Linked DNA regions of Homo sapiens. Changing the gene in region 2 together with the main gene of any one other region gives a genetic interaction. Each region holds a gene or a part of one and is shown on either strand. Other genes may lie near its edges.

What was found. A genetic interaction does not mean that the proteins touch.
Region 1: changes in MAN1B1 (region 2) and IGF1R together harm fitness more than expected from each alone (negative genetic interaction), as found in Homo sapiens cells (one large-scale study listed by BioGRID).
Region 3: changes in MAN1B1 (region 2) and TRAPPC11 together harm fitness less than expected from each alone (positive genetic interaction), as found in Homo sapiens cells (one large-scale study listed by BioGRID).
Region 4: changes in MAN1B1 (region 2) and SEC24C together harm fitness less than expected from each alone (positive genetic interaction), as found in Homo sapiens cells (one large-scale study listed by BioGRID).

The regions. Positions count from the first base shown.
Region 1 is NC_000015.10:98,914,039-98,917,538, reverse strand, and holds part of IGF1R (insulin-like growth factor 1 receptor isoform 1 precursor), read right to left. Parts: intron 1,576-3,500; coding exon 1,408-1,575; intron 868-1,407; coding exon 663-867; intron 1-662. UniProt on the Homo sapiens protein: Receptor tyrosine kinase which mediates actions of insulin-like growth factor 1 (IGF1). Binds IGF1 with high affinity and IGF2 and insulin (INS) with a lower affinity. The activated IGF1R is involved in cell growth and survival control.
Region 2 is NC_000009.12:137,093,485-137,096,984, forward strand, and holds part of MAN1B1 (endoplasmic reticulum mannosyl-oligosaccharide 1,2-alpha-mannosidase), read left to right. Parts: intron 1-860; exon of another isoform or gene 861-946; intron 947-2,752; coding exon 2,753-2,907; intron 2,908-3,500. UniProt on the Homo sapiens protein: Involved in glycoprotein quality control targeting of misfolded glycoproteins for degradation.
Region 3 is NC_000004.12:183,693,793-183,697,292, reverse strand, and holds part of TRAPPC11 (trafficking protein particle complex subunit 11), read right to left. Parts: intron 3,377-3,500; coding exon 3,255-3,376; intron 2,690-3,254; coding exon 2,570-2,689; intron 1-2,569. UniProt on the Homo sapiens protein: Involved in endoplasmic reticulum to Golgi apparatus trafficking at a very early stage.
Region 4 is NC_000010.11:73,761,372-73,764,871, forward strand, and holds part of SEC24C (protein transport protein Sec24C), read left to right. Parts: intron 1-726; coding exon of another isoform or gene 727-795; intron 796-2,118; coding exon 2,119-2,230; intron 2,231-2,484; coding exon 2,485-2,612; intron 2,613-3,500. UniProt on the Homo sapiens protein: Component of the coat protein complex II (COPII) which promotes the formation of transport vesicles from the endoplasmic reticulum (ER).

The sequences.
Region 1 (3,500 bases), on a different chromosome or scaffold from region 2:
GTTTACTTTCCTCTGCTTTTGTCCCCACTCCCCAGAAACCAAGACCACAGCAGAGGAGCAGAGTCCCTGGGGCAGGGGCTGTGTTGCTTTGAAAGACAGAGTAACCACGGAATAAACAGCCAATGCAGGCTGTCGCCCTACACTGCTTCCCAAACTTACTTGTACAGGATGCCTGTGGCACCTGGCTATGTTTTGAAGTCAGGCCCTTTCCAGCACAGACTCTGACTTTTTTCCCTCTTGCTTCACTCCTCCTCTGTGAGGCTGAGAGAGGCAGTAAAGATAATTAGGAAGGGCAGAGATGGACCCAAATCCTGGCCTTTCCTCTCACCAGGCAGCAGCTGTCAATACTCTTTGAGTTTCCCCTCCCTGCCTCTACCACAGGGTGCCCACCTGCTCTCTGTGGGGGGTTGTGGCTGAGACAGCAGTACCTGTCACACCGGTGGCCCCAGCAACCCAAGCCCTGGTCCCTGTTCCCTTCAGGGCTGACTGGCTTCCGCAGGGACTCACTTCACCGAACCTGTCATCTTTTTCGGCTCCGTCTCAGTGGCTACTGTATTGTACCCCCCAGCTGCTGACTTACACACTACCTGGTGGGGAGAAAGGCAACAGAACCGGCCTGAGCAGTGGGTTTTGCCAACTGAAATTTCACATGAGCTGGGTACCTGGGCACGAAGATGGAGTTGTGCAGGAAATTCTCAAAGACTTTGCGGTATTCAGCCTCCTCCTTCTCGGCCTGCTTCTCGGCTTCAGTTTTGGGGCAGGCGCAGCAAGGCCCTTTCTCCCCACCACACACCTCAGTCTTGGGGTTCTCTGTGACCTCCTCAATGTCGATGGTGCCGTCGGCATACTTCCTGATGGGGATTTTGTCTTCTCGGAAAAGAAAAGCCAAAACAAGAGTGGGAATGAAAGCCGTTATACATGCTTGTAAGGAAAAATAATAGCTCTCAGTACCTTTAATCAAGAAGATAGCTGGTCTCGGCCAGATGTGGTGGCTCAAGGCTATAATCCCAGCACTTTGGGAGGCCGAGGCGGGCAAATCACCTGAGGTTAGGAGTTTCAGACCAGCCTGGGCAACATGGTGAAACCCCGTCTCTACTAAAAATACAAAAATTAGCTGGGCATGGTGGTGCATGCCTGTAATCCCAGCTACTCGGAATGCTGGGGAATGAGAAATGCTTGAACCTGGGAGGCAGAAATTGCAGTGAGCCATGATCGTGCCACTGCACTCCAGCCTGGGCAACAGAGTGAGACTCTGTCTCAAAAAAAAAAAAAAAAAACCAGAAGATAGCTGGTTTCCAATGGAGAACTACACTGTTGTCTGATACGTGTAATATTAGGGCTCAGGCACATTACAACCACAGGAATGAACGGTCACACCCTCCGTCCAGGCCGCTGCTGCACCCTTACCTTTGGAGCAGTAATTGTGCCGGTAAAGGTAGCCGTCCTGAGGCTGCCGCTGCCAGCGCACAATGTAGTAACTCAGGTTGCCGTTGGGCAGAGAGGGAGGGTTCCACTTCACGATTAACTGAGAAGAGGAGTTCGATGCTGAAAGAACGTCCAAGGGAATGGAAGGAACTGGAGAGGGGAACAAAGAACATTCTAGAAAATGAAATGAACTTAAGAGTCAGGCTATCAGATACTCTGGCAAGCCAACAGGAAACTGCCAGTTTGACCTGGATAAGAAAATAACAATGAACAATGAAATACAAAGTGAAAAGTGAACCTTATTTTGAAATAGTACTACTATAAATGCCAACATTTCCCTTTATAATCTATTTCCTCCGGTAATCTCTGTGAAAACAAACATTACTGAGTTGTAAATGGAAAAAGGCTGCGGGGGCACAAGCAGGGTTAGAAGAGACAATGTGAAAATCTACAGCTAATTCAAACACCTGGTATTTCTCATTTATTACAACTGCCATTCTCCACAGTGCTGCACTCCGGCAATTTCGACAACTGGTAAAACAGGCTGACTTGGATTTCATCTGAGATTTTGAATCTCTGATAAAAATGTCATGAAGCCAAATGGAAAGAGGAAGTGGAAAGGGGCCTGGAGAGTCTGTGTGTGTGAAGGAGTGTGCATGCCCATGTCACAGCTGTGTGTAAGAGGGATGGGGGAGAGGCAATGCAAAGAACACGGAAGTCCACCATTTCCACAGGCATCCTTCAGTACAATGACTGAGGCATGACTCTGAAAAGCAGTTTAGAACTGCAAACGCATGGAAGCCTCATTTTGAGCAAAGGACTCTGTCACCAGCAGAATGAATGCCGATTATAGGCAAAGCATAGTTATCTGATCAAGCTTTACTTATGCTGACCCCTGAACTGAAACCCAGAGCTGAAGTGTGCATAAAGATCAAATGCATCCCAGAACCACTGAAATCTTGTCCTTATTGGGTCACAAAAAAGCATCAATGTTGATGGTTTTTCAAAGCACAGGAGACACCTTCACTGGATATCACTTAAGCAATATGTTTGCCTAAGCCATTTTTAAAACTTGAAAAGGGCGGACAGCTTGAGGGTGCTCCAGGTTATACGATACACACAAGGTTCTGAACATCTTTAAGGGATGATACTTTGGAAAAAGGTTATGACTAATACTGGCGTTTTCAGAGAAAACACAACCACTTGATGCTCAGCCACTTTAGGGTTTCCAAAAATAAGTACTTCAAAAACAAACAGCTCATTCCTAGATACATTCTTACGATAGGTGTCACCAAACAGCAGAGGCAGAGGACCAAGTTCTCGTCTGTCTCCGCTGCGTGTAAGGACAGAGGACAAAACGTAGTGAACTGACTCATTGGTACAGTGCCTGGTTTCCATCTTTGTGGAAAGGAAACAGGTTTCTTGAGAATCTGTCACAATAAGCAGATATTCCTATGTTTCCCAAACACTACAGTGAATTGCTGGCCAGGGGTTACTTCCAAATTTTAAGATGAAAAACTTCTTCTGTTGCACTGAACCTCTGCTACACCAACCCACACGCAGGATCAGAAGCCTGTGCCAATTTTGTTTCAATAAGCACTTTACCCAGTGACATGACTGTGGCCACTTACAGGGTCATGGAGATGGGGTAGGAGTGGAGGAAGGAGCAGGCGTGCACAGCAAAAGGTTTTCCCCACCAGCATTTTCTTCTCACCCTCCTCTCTGCCATTTAAACTGATTTTGTGCTCGCTTATGGGTATTTAAAAACACCTTACCCACTAAAATAATGGCTATTATCAAAGAATGTTTATCAGTGCTATAGAGTGAATGCCTGTGTCCCCTACCAAAACTCACATGTCAAAATCCTAACCCCTAAGGGGATGGAATTAGGAGGCATGGCCTTTGGGAGGTGATTGGGTCATGGGAGTGAAGCCCTCATGAATGGAATCCAGGCCCTTCTATGAGAGGCCCCGGAGAGTGCTCCCGCATCCCTGCCACCATGCAAGGACACAATGAAAAGACAGCCATCTATGAGCCAGGGAGTGGGCCCTCACCAGACACCAAATCTGCCAGCG
Region 2 (3,500 bases):
AAGTACAACACTCAAGGTATTTGAAAAGACCTAAATAAGTAGACATTTTATTCTTCTGCTGTGAAGATTTAAGCAGTGGCTCACGCCTGTAATCCCAACACTTTGGGAGGCTGAAGCGGGTGGATCACAAGGTCAGGAGATTGAGACCATCCTGGCTAACACAGTGAAACCCCGTCTCTACTAAAAATACAAAAACAAAATTAGCCGGGCGTGGTGGCAGGCACCTATAGTCCCAGCTACTCGGGAGGCTGAGGCAGGAGAATGGCGTGAACCTGGGAGGCGGAGGTTGCAGTGAGCCGAGATCGCGCCACTGCACTCCAGCCTGGGCGACAGAGCAAGACTCTGTCTCAAAAAAAAGAGAAAAGATTTAAGTTCTCCCTAAATTCATCTGTAAATCCATTGACTCCCTATCAAAATTCCAACCTCTGTTTTTAAAGATGATTTTAAAATTCATATGGAAAGAAAATTTGGGAGTAAAACTCAGATGAACTTCCCTACAAGATCATAAAACTGTGATCATTGAACCCATGGTGATTTTTTTTTTTTTTGAGACAGAGTCTCACTCTGTTGCCCAGGCTGGAGTGCAGTGGCACAATCTCCACTCACTGCAACCTCCACGTCTCGGGTTCAAGTGATTCTCCTGCCTCAGCCTCCCAAGTAGCTGGGATTACAGGGATGTGCCACCACGCCCGGCTAACTTTTTGATTTTTTGTAGAGGTGGGGTCTCACTTTGTTACCCAGGCTGGTCTGGAACTCCTGGGCTCAGGTGATCCTCCTGCCTCGGCCTCCCAAAGTGCTAGGATTACAGATGTGAGCCACTGCACCTGACCCTCGTAACGGTGATTTTTAAGACTAGGTGATCTTAGTGACATAATTCTAATAGTTTGTTCCGACCTTCCACTGTGGACTCAATAGCAGGGAGATGAAGAGGACAGTGATTGCATGACCTGGTGGAGAAGAGACTAGAGAAACACAGTGGAACTAGTGGCTCACATCTGTCATCCCAGCACTTTGAGAGGCCGAGGCAGGCAGATTGCTTGAATGCAGGAGTTCGAGACCAGCCTGAGCAACATAGTGAGACCCCATCTCTATTAAAAAAAAAAACAGGCTGGGGCCAGGCATAGTGGCTCATGCCTGTAATCCCAGCGCTTTGGGAGGCTGAGACGGGTGGATTGCTTGAGACCAGGAGTTCAAAACCAGCCTGGCCAACATGGTGAAATCCTGTCTCTACTAACAATACAAAAAATTAACCTGGAGTGGTGGCGGGCGCCTGTAATCCCAGCTACTCAGGAGTCTGAGGCAGGAGAATCACTTGAACCCAGGAGGCAGAGGTTGCAGTGAGCCAAGATCACGCCACTGCACTCCTGCCTGGGCAACAAGAGTAAAACTCTGTCTCAAAAAACAAACAAACAAAAAAAACAGGCTGGGCATGGTGGCTCATGCCTGTAATCCCAGCACTTTGGGAGGCTGAGGTGGGTAGATCACCTGAGGTCAGGAGTTCGAGACCAGCCTGGCAAACATGGTAAAACCCCATTTCTACTAAAGATACAAAAATTAGCCAGGTGTGGTGACACGCGCCTGTAATCCCAGCTACTTGGGAGGCTGAGGCAGGAGAATCGTTTGAACCCAGGAGGTGGAGGTTGCAGTGAGCCAAGATTGCACCATTGCACTCCGGCCTGGGTGACAAAACAAGACTCTGACTGGGATTACAGGCGTGCGCCACCACGCCTGGCTAATTGTTCGTAATTTTAGTAGAGATGGTGTTTCACCATGTTGCCCAGGTTGGTCTTGAACTCCTGACCTCAGGTGATCCACCTGCCTCCCAAAGTGCTGGGATTACAGACGTGAGCCACCGTGCCCAGCCATAAGTAAGCATTCTTTCCTTTTTTAAAAAAAAAAAAAGTGGAGCAATCTAAATATCCATCAGTAAAGAAGTACAAAATTATGGCTTGTGCCGGGCATGTTGGCTGCAACCTGTCATCCCAGCACTTTGGGAAGCCAAGGCAGGAGGAATTCGTGAGGCCAGGAGTTTAAGACCAGCCTGGGCAACATAAGGAGACCCTGTCTCTATAGTAATAATAATAATAAAAATTAAGGTTTGGTAATACCACAGAAAACTGAGGCCATAGGAGAGAATGGATTTGCCTCTAGACTCACGTAGGAGGACCTAAGCCTCAGTCCGTGACACGGTCTGCAGCTTTCCCACGCTCCTGTTCACGTGGGGAAGGGAGCAGAGGACGGGGCTCTGTGCCTGCAGGTGTGGAAACAGGGAACAGGGTGGTGGGGGCTGGCTAGAAGGCCCGCATCACACAGCAGGGGGCGCCTGGCAAGGGGAACCCAGCTCCATATGTCATCGGAAGCTTTGTGCTTTGTAGTGAGGATGTGGGTGCCTGCCTCACTTTGCAGATGACTGTGCGGGAGGCCTGGGGACCCAGAGGTGTTGCTGGAGCTGGTGTTTACTGCAGCCCTTTGTTATTAACGCTTTAGGACCTGTGAGAGTTTGGAAATATTCCCACCGTGGGAGGGGCTTAAGCGTTTTGTCTGGGGCCGTTTAGCCAGTCGGCAGTGTCCCCAGGCTCCTAAGGAGCTGTCTTCTGAAGCTGCCTGTCGTATTGAAAAACGAAAGTAATTTAGTCAGAGGTCAGAAGCTCAGTCTGTGAGGTGTGGGCTGCACCTGAGGGCGTCCCATAGAGGGAAAGAAGGGCAGCTCGCAGACACCCCGTGATTTCCTGTGTGACCAATTTCTCTACAGAAGACACAAAGACACATCCAGCGGGGACCACCTCACCTGCAGATTAGACCCCCAAGCCAAGACCTGAAGGATGGGACCCAGGAGGAGGCCACAAAAAGGCAAGAAGCCCCTGTGGATCCCCGCCCGGAAGGAGATCCGCAGAGGACAGTCATCAGGTACAGAGCGCAGGGCAGGCTGCACGCCGCCGCTCAGGGCTTGATGTTCCGAAAAACAAGATTGCGGAAACGCATTGTGTCTGAGATCTATTTTCCTTTGAAACTGACAGTGTATGCTCTGTAATCTGTCCTCATTAACCTTAGATTACAGAATCGAATTTTTAAAACTGGAGGTCAGAGCTAAATTAGGTCCCCGATAATGTCCTCATGGTATGCAGTAACATTTCAGAATGTTTTGTGTGCGTGTGAAGGGTGCACAGGTGCGTGGGGATGGGGAGCCAGGCTCAGAGGTGGACGCTGGCTGCCTGGGCCACCTCCTTTCCCGAGCCCCATCTGGTCGAGCAGAGAGCAGAGGGAGAGGGAGTTGCCCGGTGCCCAGGCTCCCAGAGTGCTGTCCTCTGCCCGGTTCGTCAAGTCCAGGTAGTGGATCCCAGTGGAGCTTCGGTGCTGGAGGCGTCTCTGCCTCGTTTCCGGCTCCATGTTACGCTCTTAGAAACGGAGTTGATTGTGGTTGAGGCGGAAGGAAGGGTTCCCCGCAGACGTCCTCTCTCTTCTACAAAGTGTGGGCAGAGCCAGGGCCAGTGAGGGCTGCT
Region 3 (3,500 bases), on a different chromosome or scaffold from region 2:
GGCAACCAGGATGGAGGACAGTGGCACCATCACAGATCACTGCAGCCTCGAACACCTGGGCTCAAGTGATCCTCCTGAGCAGCTGGGACTACAGGAGCACACTACCACGCCCGGCTACCGTATTTTATGGTTTTAGAGATGGGGTCTTGCTATGTTGCTCAGGCTAGTCTTGAACTCCTAGCCTCAAGTGATCCTCTTGCCTCAGAACCCCAAAGTGCTGGTACTACAGGAGTGAACCACAGCACCTGGCTAAAGTGTTTTCTTATACATTATTTATCTCTGGATCTAATGAAGTGGGCAGGGCAGGCATCATCACCATTTTGCAGAGGAGGAATCAGACGTTCCACAAAGCTAGGGTCTTCCTTTTGTCTAAGTTCCTACTACACCTCAACTCAAAATGACTAATAAGAAAGATAATAATAATGTAATGTGACAGACACTGCTATCATCCGTATACATGTATTATGTAATGTTCATAATCACACAAGGAAACAAGTGCTATTATGATTGCCACTTTAAGATGAGGTCATGGAGCCTACACTCTTAACCAACATGCTACATCTCCTTTCTAAAAGAGTCTGTTAGAAAAACAATGGGGGGGTGGGCATGGTGGCTCACACCTGTAATCCCAGCTTTGGGAGGCTGAGGTGGACAAATTGCTTGAGCTCAGGAGTTCAAGACCAGCCTGAGCAACATGGCACAACCCTGTCTCTACCAAAAATATAAAAAATCTGCTGAGTATGGTGGTGCACACCTGTAGTCCCAGTTACTCGGGAGGCTGAGATGGGTGGATTGCTTGAACCCAGGAGTCGGAGGCTGCAGTGAACCAAGATCGTGCCACTACACTCCAAGCTGGGCAACACAGTGAGACCCCATGTCAAAATAAAAAAATAAAAGAAAGAAGAAAAAAAACCATGGGGTTATTTCATCTTTCAAAACAAATAACACAACCTCTTGGTAAGAAACCTTTAAAAAAGATCATACTGGTTAAAAGCTCAGGCTGTAATGCCAGACAGAGCTGAATTCTAATCCTGGCTCAATACATATTTACTAGCTCTGTGACCTTGAACCTAATGACGTGACCCTGGGAAAGTTATACAGGTTATCTGAAATGCTTGGGGCCAGAAGTGTCTCAGATTTTTTGGATTTTGGAGTATTTGGATTATACTTACTTGTTGAGCATTCCAAGTCCAAAATGCTCCTGGGAGCATTTCCTTTGAGTGTCATGCTGGCACTCAAAAAGTTTCCAAAAGATTTTGGAACGTTTTGGATTTTGAATTTTCAGATTTGGGATGCTCAACTCATGCAGTCTCTTTAAGTCCCAGTTTCATAATCCTCACAGGCTTGTTAGAAAAATCAAATGAGATAATACATATAATGTGCTGAGATTGGCACCCTTATCTCCTAAGCTACCATATAGGACTCTATGTATTATACCAGGCTATGAGAAATTTTCAACAGTACATTACATGCCTTCTTCTCTCCCGCTTGGGAAATACTAATAATTTTGAGATGGTTTTCTTTCCCAATGACTAGTAAATAGCCCACAGCCCAGACTCTGTGCAGTAACAAAACTACAAATCCCCAAATTGCTATAGGCCTTCTCCTCTGCTGGGCTGAGGACCCAATTCCTAAGAGAAAACTAAGACAACATTACTGTCAGGACCAAGAAGATACCAAATATCATAATGTTCTACTAACAAAAGAGAACATAAACATTATATACAGCACAATTGAATCTATTTAGAAACATGGCCTGTTAAAAATCTCTAGAAATAGAAAAGAGACCAATAAGAAACACAAAGAGTTAGCAGTTGCCTTCGAGTTGTGAACTGTAACCGTGATCGTTCCTATTTTCACTTTTATGTGCACTTACCGAAAACAATTTTTACCAATATTTTTTAATAACAGAAAAATGCCTTTCAAAGGGCGACCTCCTTTTCTCCAGAACCCTCTATATGTAAGTCAACTTACAGATTTTATCTCATGTGTGATTTGCTTGAGATCTCAATCCTATTGATCCTCTATACGAAAAGCCATATAGGCCGGGTCCAGTGGATCACGCCTGTAATCCCAGCACTTTGGGAGGCCAAGGTGGGCAGATCACCTGAGGTTGGGAGTTCAAGACCAGCCTGACCAACATGGAGAAACCCCGTATCTACTAAAAATACAAAAAATTAGCTGGGTGTGGTGGTGCATGCCTGTAATCCCAGCTACTCGGGAGGCTGAGGCAGGAGAATCGCTTGAACCCGGGAGGTGGAGGTCGCAGTGAGCCAAGATCGTGCCACTGCACTCCAGCCTGGGCGACAAGGGCAAAACTCCGCCTCAAAAAAAAAAAAAAAAAAAAGAAAAGCCATATAAGCTAATTTTCTGTTTAATGTTTGAGCAGTGAATGCCAGCCTAAACAAATCTCAATATAAGTGATTTTTTAAAAAGTTTAATTAAAATTTATAACAGACTATAAGCACCTAAACTGCTTATTTTATGCTTATTTTATAGGTAAACTAAAATAACACAAAATGGGAATACTCCACATATGATGCTTTATAAAGTAGCTATAAAAAAATACCTTGTGACACTTGCAAACAATTTCTTTTTCTTCAACGGTTGTATTTATCAGGTAAGAAACATATACAAGAAACATTCTGGAACCCACTGTTCCACAGCGAACATACAACATTTTTTCCAGCTGTAACAAAATAAATGTTGTAATTTAATTAGTATTACAGACATTTCTTCTTGATATATATTCTAGGATAATGTTCCCACCTTCTAGAGTTTATTTATACCAACTGGCTAAATTCTTTATCACTTTTACAGAATGTTACAATGTAACTCATCAATGCTCCCACTGTAGTAGAGTACTCTGATTACACTGTGGCCACAGTATAAGGGTGGGATCATTACTACTGCATCTTTTAGAAATTATTGTTCTTTAACTTCCAAAATATTTTTCTATCTAGTTTGGAAGCAGAAGTTGACTGAGAAGTTAACTGCACTAAGTTACAAACAATGGGTATTTTATTAGCCCACTAATTCATGTTAAGCATGTTTTCTAAATTCCCTTGTAGAAAAACTGCTTAAGACATTTTACACATTTACGTATGTAAAATGTGTATGAAATGTTCATTAGTTAAATCACTTTTTCAGTCCTAGAATATGCGTTAAAACGCTCTGAACTGTTAAAAACTCACTATATATTTAAAACTACAAACTAATTGATTTCCTCTTCAATCCCAGTTGACCAAGTTTACCTGTTCCCCTGGATGTAAGTCTCCAACAGGAATGTCAGTGAGTAAAGCCGGGTAGGATTCATCACACAGTTCTGTTCCATGAAGAGTCACGTGAGTCTTCTGAGTTAAATTGGCATCCTGTCCTAAAAGAGTTAATATTGGTTCTTCAAAACAAAGAATTCAAACATTATCCCAATAATCAATACTGTGTGAAGAGCACTATGCCATACCCTCTTGTAAACAAAAGTCCTAGAGTTGACATCACTG
Region 4 (3,500 bases), on a different chromosome or scaffold from region 2:
TATGAGGGCAGTGTGTATGTAAAGTCCCACTGGAGAGCTGCTTTTTTCAGGAAGAGGGTGAATTGCACCCTTGGAGCCATCAGAATCCTCAGGCCCTCCTTATCAGACTCAGAATAGAGACTAGGACTGTACTGCCAAGTAGGGGCCACTTTATAGTTCCACCTGTAACATTTGCTATGTCAGTTACCTTGCCATGCTTAGCCATTGTCATATTCCATTCTGTTCTCGTCCCTCTTCCTCCTTTGGGTAACCAACACAGTGAGGGAGCCTGTTGGCCAAGGAGAACTCAAGAGGATTAAGCAGCCTCTCCTTCCTTCCCCCTCCTTCAGTGAGAAGGAGAGTCTGGTTGGACATGAAGGGAGGCTTCTTTCAGCATAAGATAGTCCTTAGAATGGGAGGTTTGGCCTTTTAGGGGGAACACTCCTCTTCTTCTTCCTTAAGGTTTCTTCCATTCAGCCTCAGCCCCTCCCTGTGTAACTCCTGCTTGCCTCCTGTTTGCCCCTTTCCTTATCTTTCTACATCATAGTCTGAGCCATTAAAGCCTCTGTGTTGGGCCAGAAAGACTTGGAATTTCATATCTAGAGGGGGCTTGATTTCAGCAATATGAGCTGGGCTCCAGCTGTTCATGTCTAACTCAACAGGGTTGAGAGAAGTAACATCTGCCTCTTGTTCTTTTGTCTCCCTCCTTGTATTCCCCTGCTGCATTTATTATTAAAACACTAAAAGCAACTCAGTGAGCTGCCTCCTCAGCAGAAAACCAGGCACAGAATAGACCCCGATGCCATTCCTAGTCCAGTAAGTGCAGGGGGTGGGTGTTTGTGCATGTCATTCCTGTGTTAGTGCCATCCATGCATGCCTGTGACCTCATCTTCACCTCATCTACCATGTCCATTCCTCCCCATTCTCTTCCTTTAGCCTAGCCCTTCTAGATACTCACTTATACAAGATAAAAGGATATGCATGCCTCAAGTCACCAGGTAATGAAGAGGTAGCAAGCTGTTTGCCTTGAGTATGGGGTGGTGGAAGGTCAGGCTCTAAGGGTGGGGTCAGGTGGCATGTCAAGCTTTGGCTTTAGTTCTGCTGGCACCTCCAGGAGCCTGCAGGTGATGTATGATGGAAGAGGACAAAGTTGAACGGTAGATCATTCCACTTTGGATTTGATTTGTCTGTAGCCTGTTGTGGAGAAATATTGGAGTAGGAATGTACAGATTCATAGTATCCCAAACTGGCATTTCTTACAGGAGAAGGGACTGCTGGTTTGGGAAAGTGTGGGTGCTTTCTCATCTGAAGAGTCTTTTTGACTCTGATATATTTCTAAGCTTCAACCTTTCTGCTATGGGATAGAGTCTTATTTGCCCTTTGCTTTTTCTGGTTTTCCAAACCCATCTTGAAGTAACTGACCAAAGGTCATTAGCCTGCATAAAGGTCTGAATACCAGCTTTGCAGGTCCTTTATTTTCCTTTGCTGAGTCTGTCAAAATGTGGAGGACTGAGGATTGAGCTATAAGGATTGGGTACTTCTCCTCTCCTCCTATATATACACATTGATGCTTACCTGAAAGTAAGGCAGCATCTGCTTCCTCACCTTACTTGATCATTTCTGGCTGTTTAAATCTCTCCTCACCCTGTCCCTTGTAATTTCATTGAGTGTAGAGTCATTCCAGGTAGATTCATTTTTACGTGGTTACTGTTGTCTGTTTTCCTGCTCTGACTCAGAATGTGTCTTGGGGAGAGGATCGGGGAAGGCATGATGGGGGAGGGGAATGGAATCTAATCATGTTTGAAGGTTTGTGATCAGAGCTGGGGCTTTTCCTGGAATGGGAGGAATGAGAGGGTGTTCACCATTGATGGGGGGTAGGGGGCAATTCATAAAGAAGCCCATTCTCATGTTGCCTGCCCAGCAGGCTGCTGGGAGTGAAAGATTGGCTGCTGTAGAGTGTAAGATTGGCATTACAGCATTTTATATGATCTCCAGAAGGAGAACAGGCCTGGTGTATGAGGTGTTCCTTGGCAAATTTTTAGTTTTTGTGTTACAGCTCTAGCCTTTTTCACTCTTGGCACTCTGGGACCTCACACTTCCTTTTTCTTCTGTCACCTCATTCATTGCACTTCTCTGCAGATTCAGGTCATTGAAGATGACAGGAACAACCGGGGTACAGAGCCATTTGTTACTGGAGTACGGGGCCAGGTGCCACCCTTAGTCACTACCAACTTCCTGGTGAAAGACCAAGGTGAGAATGGAATTAGCTCCTCCCACAGGGGCTTTTTCTTCAAGATTATCAGCTTATGGTTGGGGCTTTTTTTTTTTTTTTTTTTTTTTTTTTTTTTTAGTTTTTAACCAGAGACAAGTTCCCTCTAGTCCCTCTGGGGGAAAAAGCCACCATCACCTCTAGCTTTGTGGAGTTGATGGTGTGGATCACCAATGGAGAGCTGGTGTCTGGAAGGATTCTGTGATCTGACTCGGGTCTTCTGCCTCCTTCTTCAGGGAATGCAAGTCCCCGATACATCCGATGTACATCCTATAATATCCCTTGCACATCTGACATGGCTAAGCAGGCTCAGGTGCCCCTGGCAGCAGTCATCAAACCGCTGGCAAGGCTGCCCCCAGAGGAGGTGAGTCAGGGAAGGGGCTAGAGTGTAATGAAAGGGAGGGAGGTAGAGAGGGGTCTAAAGCGTCTTCCTGGATGTGATTCCAGCTTCACAATGGAAGATATTTTAGTTAGGCAGGAGAGGAGACTGTCTTTAGTGGCTTTCTATCCCAGGGCCCATGCCTGGAGAGGGGATGGTAGGGATGAGAGCAAAAGCCCAAGACATTGCTGAGAAGGAACAGAGTCTCTAGAGGAAACAAGCAGGATGAAAAGAGGTAGGGCCAGGCCAGGCGCAGTGGCTCACGCCTGTAATCCCAGCACTTTGGGAGGCTGAGGCGGGTGGATCACGAGGACAGGAGATCAAGACCATCCTGGCTAACACGGTGAAACCCCGTCTCTATGAAAAATACAAAAAATTAGCCGGGCGTGGTGGCGGGCGCCTGTAGTCCCAGCTACTTGGGAGACTGAGGCAGGAGAATGGCGTGAACCCGGGAGGCAGAGCTTGCAGTGAGGCGAGATTGCACCACTGCACTCCAGCCTGGGCAACAGAGCGAGACTCTGTCTCAAAAAAAAAAAAAAAAACAAGAGGTAGGGCCAAATTGTAGGGGAGAAGACAGCTGAATGTAGGAACCTCTCGTATCATGGTCATCTCCAGATGATGAGAAGGACATCATTCCATGTTTTCCTGACTGTCCTGTCATCCCAGGTTAGTGCTGTTAGAACAGCATATAAGAGAAAAGGTAGATTAGGATCCAGTGATCCTTCTGTCACCTGTTTTGGGACCTGATCTGTCACCCCAGTACCTGATACCAGCATGAAGAGAGCGAGCCAGGCAGCTGCTCCACCAGGCCTTGGTAGGATACTCATATTCAGCCTTGCTTATCTTACGATAGGGTTCTCTGTTACTAGAAGC